2 separate regions of the Homo sapiens genome follow, and region 1 is linked to region 2. Evidence: fine-mapped QTL for protein levels in blood plasma. A gene starts in region 2. The other region holds a variant in brackets. All regions are shown on one strand. Distances are from middle to middle.

Region 1 (2,919 bases), 29 kb after region 2:
TGTGAAGCTGATATGGTGGCTTCAAGAGAAGAGAGAAGGAGGAGGCATCATGCCACCCTCAGACCTTGGTACCCCACATCTGCTGTAATTCCCTCCTCTGAGATATCAGCCTCAACACTGAGTTTCTGTACAGTGTTTCCAGCCATCTTTAGGTAAAAATAAGTCACACTTGGAAACAAATGGTTTCTCTTATATGCTTTTGTCTGGCAAAAGTATATTGTAAGTGATCCAAAAGGAATTGATTTACAAAATCTGAAAATATCCAAAAACAAAACCTGCCAAATGAATTTAAATTTCAGGTCATCAGAACCATTGCTCTGATGTCACTTTGTGCCACCCTCTGCCCTTTCCACACTCCAACGTTACAGTTATCTTCCAGAACACTGGCTTCAGCCTTGGCTTGTCCCTCCTGATGGGCTGCCCTTTCCTCAGCTCTTCAAGGGCAGTGCCTTCTTCTGCCTGTTCAATTCTCAGTTGGTTCTTCTTTTCTTTTAGCCAATCACTCTCTGTCTTATGACCTGTTCTATTTTCTTTTCTTTTATTTTCTTTTTCTTTTTTTCTTTTTTTTGAGATGGAGTCTCACTCTGTTGCCCAGGCTGGAGTGCGGTGGTGTGATCTCAGTTCACTGCAACCTCTGCCTCCTGGGTTCAAGCAATTCTCTGTCTCAGCCTCCGGAGTAGCTGAGATTACAGGTGCCCGCCACCACACCCAGCTAATTTTTTGTATTTTTAGTAGAGATGGGGTTTCACCATCTTGGCCAAGCTGGTCTTGAACTCCTGACTTCGTGATCCACTCGCCTTGGCCTCCCAAAGTGCTGGGATTACAGGCGTGAGCCACCGTGCCCAGCCGAGCTACCCTATTTTCTTCATTGAGTCTATCCCTTCTTGAAATTATTAGAATGATTTTTCACTAGCTTGTTCAGTGTGAGCTCCCAGTAAGCTCCTGTAATGCCTGGCACATAGTAGATGCTTAAGAAATCTTTCTAGAATGAATGAATGGGCTGAATGAATCATCAGGGAAGCTGGCTTGAGGAAACTTGATCTTGGGCCATCTTCTTGGGGACGTGTGAGCTCCATTTGCCCCTCTGGCCCCTGTGGGACCGAGGTAGTTATGAACTCTGCAAATTGTTGATTCCTTTGTGCCTGCAGATCAGGCACTGCCCTTGTCAGGGACCTCCTTTGGTGCTTGGCTCTGTGCCAGAGGACACGGTGACAACTGAGGT[G/A]TGAATGCAATGTCAATGATTGACTAGGACCAGCACTGGGCTGCATATTTCCAGGCACAGACTGTGGCTGCATCATTAATAGAGGCCTAGAGGCAACCTGAGTCTCCCTCCTTCCAGAGCAATGGCCATGGCCAAGTCTCCTGCCATCAATCCTTGGAGATTAGATGAGAATGGGACTGGGGCTTTGACCCTGCAAGGACTAAATCCCACCAGTGTCCTAAGAGGAGTTTTCATCAAAGTCACATTGCAGAAGATGCGTAAAGCACTGTCTCCTCTCAGCTCAGAGGAGCCCTGGCAAGTAGGCAGAACTGGCCTTACTCATCCTGTTTAGAAAATGAGAAATTGGGCCGGGTGCGGTGGCTCACACCTGTAATCCCAGCACTTTGGGAGGCCGAGACAGGTGGATCATGAAATCAAGAGATTGAGACCATCCTGGCCAACATGGTGAAACCCCATCTCTACTAAAAATACTAAAAATTAGCTGGGAGTGGTGGCACATGCCTGTAGTCCCAGCTACTCGGGAGGCTAATGCAAGACAATCACTTGAACCCGGGAGGCGGAGGTTGCAGTGAGCCGAGATCGCACCACTGCACTCCAGCCTGGCAAAACAGTGAGACTCCATCTCAAAAAAAAAAAAAAAAAAAAAGAGAAATTGGAAGCCTGGTTGTAAAAGGCTCGTTGAAGTTCCCATGGTTACTGCTCATCCTAAAATCCAGGCATCCTCAATCCCTGTCCCAGCTTCATCCTGGCATTCCCTTTGCCCTTTCTCTGGTTAGAAGTAATACTGAGGAAGCAAGCCCAGCAGAAATATGGGTGGGTACTTTACCCTATGCCCACCTGCAGTGGGTGCTTCCAATTCCATTGTATTCAAAATCTAAAACTTTTATTATTATTATTTTAAAATTTAGAGACAGGATCTCACTCTGTCACCCAGGCTGAAGTGCAGTGGTGCAATCATGGCTCACTGCAGTCACAAATTCCTGGGTTCAAGCAATTCTCCCACCTCAGCCTCCTAAGTAGCTGAGAATACAGGTATCTGCCACCACACCTGGCTAAGTTTTAAGGTTTTTGTAGAGACAGGGTCTTGTTATGTTGACCAGGCTGGTCTCAAACTTCTGGGCACAAGTGATCTTCCCATATCAGCCTCCCAGAGTGTTGGGATTACAGGTTGAGCCACTGCACCTGGCTCAAAAACTATTTGTTAAGAACTTAATTGTTCCAGGCATTGGACTAGAATGAGAAAACTAATAGTCTGATAATAATAATGAACACATCTGCCTCTTGCTTAGAGTACAGCGCAATGTAAAGCGGATTTCAACATACTATAGCCTGTAGTCCAAATCTGGCCTGCTGTTTGACTGTATAAATAAAACTTTATTGGAACACAGTCATTCCCATTTGTTAACACGTGGCTGCCTTCACATTGCATCAGCAGATCTGAGTAGTTACAACAGAGACTGCCTGGCCTGTAGGATCTGGAATATTAATAATCTGGGCCTTTGCAGAAAACATTTGCTGACTCCACCACTACTCACTGGGCAGCTTTGAGGAAGTTATTCTACCTTTCTGTGCCTCAGTTTCTCCATCTGTAAAAGCACCTCTTATATTGGGGTGTTATGACATAGGAGAAGGGTCTAGAACAATGCCTGGAACACAGTATATGCTACAGGTATGTGTCAGGCCGTGTGCCTTGCAAA
Region 2 (2,919 bases):
GCCCTTGTTTTGCTGGGACTTTACCCCTTGTACTCCCCCTCCTTACCTCACCAACATCCCAGTCTTGGCTCCCCAATTCTCAGCACATTGCACATTTTGAAGAACTCAGTCATTTGGAGCAGGAAGTAGCCAGATGGAATAGTGTTCTGGACTCACCACTTTACTGAAGGCAGCTTTGGATTTTAACTGATCCTCTGCCTGGAAACTTTCAATTTGCCTGGATCACTTATTCATTCAACAAACATCTATTGAGTAGCTACATTGTGCCAAACAGGGAGCTAGTCACCATGGAGAACAATGAACATGGCAGTCTGCTCCTTCATGCAACTCACATATCGTAAAGAAGTGGCTTGAGACGAGCAACTTGAGAGGTAATTAACCTTCACAATGCATTTAAATGTTTCTGGAGTGGTCACTTACTATTTCTTCCAATTGGAAAAATAGTCCAGGGTGGATGCCAGTATTACCCCAGTGTTTATAGCAGCAAAATAGGGTGGCATGTTGGTTAAGTATGTAGGAGCTGCAGCCTGCACCTGAGGTTCAAATCCCTGCTTTACTGATCACTAACACTGTGATGTGGGTATTTCAGTTTACTAAGTCTCCGTTTTTGTCTGTGAAATGGAGATTGTTGCTTTCACAAACTGAATATCTATGATGGGCCAGGCTCAGTTCAAAGACATTCATGTGCTCAAAGGCATTGGGTCCTAGAGCAACGTTTTCCAGATCTTCGTGACCATGATGTACTAAAAGAAAAACATTTTATGTTGCCAGGTGCAGTGGCTCATGCCTGTAATCCCAACACTTTGGGAGACTGAGGGGGTGGATCACAAGGTCAGGAGTTTGAGACCAGCCTGGCCAGCATGGTGAAACCCCATCTCTAATAAAAATACAAAAATTAGCCGGGCATGGTGGTGGGCGCCTGTAATCCCAGCTACTCGGGAGGCTGAGACAGGAGGATTGCTTGAACCTGGGAGGCAGAGGTTGCAGTGAGCTGAGATCGTGCCACTGCACTCCTGCCTGGGTGACAGAGAGTCCATCCCCCCCCCCCAAAAAAAAAAAGACAGAAAGAAAGAAAAACATTTTATGTCATGATCTAGTGCAGTCGCTTCTGCATGTATGTGCACACACACATAAAATTTTATAAGACAATTGATATCCTTACTACATTAAGTGATTTAATTCTTACCACAACCCTATGAGATAAGTATTATCCTAGTTTGCAGATGAGAAAACAGGGGGACAAAGAGGCTAACTGCTTGCCTCAAATTTGTATTGCTTACTGACATATTCTATTATATTTAATTAAAAGAAGTCCCTGGATATAACCCACAAAAGGAATGATTTTATGACCCGCTAATAAGATGCGACCTAAAACACTGCATATTGTCACTGGGATTAACTAAGATGACATATGTCGAGCAGGGCCCAGCACATAGCAAGTTGTTCATTGTTGTAACCCTGGTACCTGGCACATAATAGGTGCATAACTAATATTCATGGAATAAGTCAAAAAATAGTAGTCATTGTTACTAGGACAGAGAGGATCAAAGAGAGGAAAACTAACTTACTAAAGATCATGAAGCCAATAATTGGCAGAATAATGACTCAAATCCAGGTCTGACCCCAGTGTCCAAGGTCTTAATTTCCTCTCCTACCTCCCTCAAATAGGATGGGGAGAAGCTGGGCTAGGAGAAGACAGCTACAGATAGCCTTACCTGAAGCCAGAAAGGTAGAGTTAGTCTGGTCATGATGTGCCTCATACTTATATATACACATTTGCCCCAGGCTGGCAATCTCTCCTCCAATTAGTCTCTAGTTCTGTTTTTTGATATTGTTTTCTTGGGGGTGGAATATTTTTTCCTCCTGGCATAATGTTTGCCTTGTCCAAGCTGTGAGGTTGTTGTTGTTCTTTTTCCTAATAGCTAGAGACCCCAAATGATTGACATTGGGGGGTCACACCTGTGCCCGGAAATACAAGGTCACTGTTTCGCACCTTCTAACAGCAAGAGATTCCATAGTTAGAAATTAACTGGGAAAGCAGTGCCAAGGTGCTGGGCTTCTTCTTGGTCACTGACAAGGGCAGGGTGGGATCAAGGAGCCAGGCAGAAGCCAGTATCTGAAGCCAGGCTGCATAAGGACAAAAGGGATATTCACTGCCCCAGATGGGAGGTGCACCTGTCTTGGAGAGGGCACCCTTCTGAAACACCCATTCTCATGAGATCAGCCTTAGAATCCAGACACAAGCAAGAGAGGAGCTGAGAATGGCTGAAAGTCAGAACCAGAAGGTAGTTCAGACATCACTGGACCTGACCCACTCTGTACAACAAAGAATCAGGTCTGATGACTGGGAGGTCCCTTTGGAGGCGAAATAAATTTGCACTTAAATAGACTGACTTTGGAGTCAGTCTGCCTCCTTTATCTGGTGTTTATTGTGTGGCAGTGGGCTCATTTCTTAACCTTCCTGAGGTCCAGAGGTCAATTTCCTTGTCTATAAAATGAGAATACCCATCTCCCACAGTAGTAATAGTAACCAAAGGAGATGATGCAAGTAAAGTCATATAGTAATGATTATATTCATGGAAGTAGTGAAAATTCTGCTTTGCTGTTGTGCAATCACTGAGGTAGAAAATGACAGAGCCTGAGTTAAAACCATGTCTTCAGACCCAGTTCAACATACATGACATTCCAAAAGTCAGTGTGAGAGTGGCTGTCATCATGTTGAGAAAAATAAAATATGTGTGAACTTGGGCTGAGCAGGAAAATATCACCATGATCACTGCATTGATCTTTTTTTTTTTTATACTTTAAGTTTTAGGGTACAAGTGCACAACGTGCAGGTTTGTTACATATGTATACATGTGCCATGTTGATGTGCTGCACCCATTAACTTGTCATTTACATTAGGTATAACTCCTAATG

Alleles and levels. Positions count from the first base shown, and alleles are read on the strand shown. Strength reflects both the effect of a copy and how common the allele is.
With allele A in place of G in region 1, the plasma level of the protein whose gene starts at base 1,742 in region 2 is lower (strong association).

The links. PIP is the posterior inclusion probability: the model's chance that the variant is causal. The UK Biobank Pharma Proteomics Project read protein levels with antibody pairs (Olink). The fine-mapping took linkage between variants from a reference panel, not from the people measured, so its PIPs are less certain.
Region 1: its variant is fine-mapped to the plasma level of the UMOD protein (UK Biobank, PIP above 0.99).

The regions. Positions count from the first base shown.
Region 1 is chr16:20,379,788-20,382,706 of GRCh38, forward strand. The region is part of intron 3 of PDILT (protein disulfide isomerase like, testis expressed); the gene reads right to left. Among named protein-coding and RNA genes, the nearest start is that of PDILT, 23 kb to the right of the region's middle. The variant G/A (reference allele first, on the strand shown) is at 1,223.
Region 2 is chr16:20,350,974-20,353,892 of GRCh38, forward strand. UMOD (uromodulin) reads right to left here and starts at 1,742. Exons shown (of 11, transcript NM_003361.4): 1 at 1,716-1,742.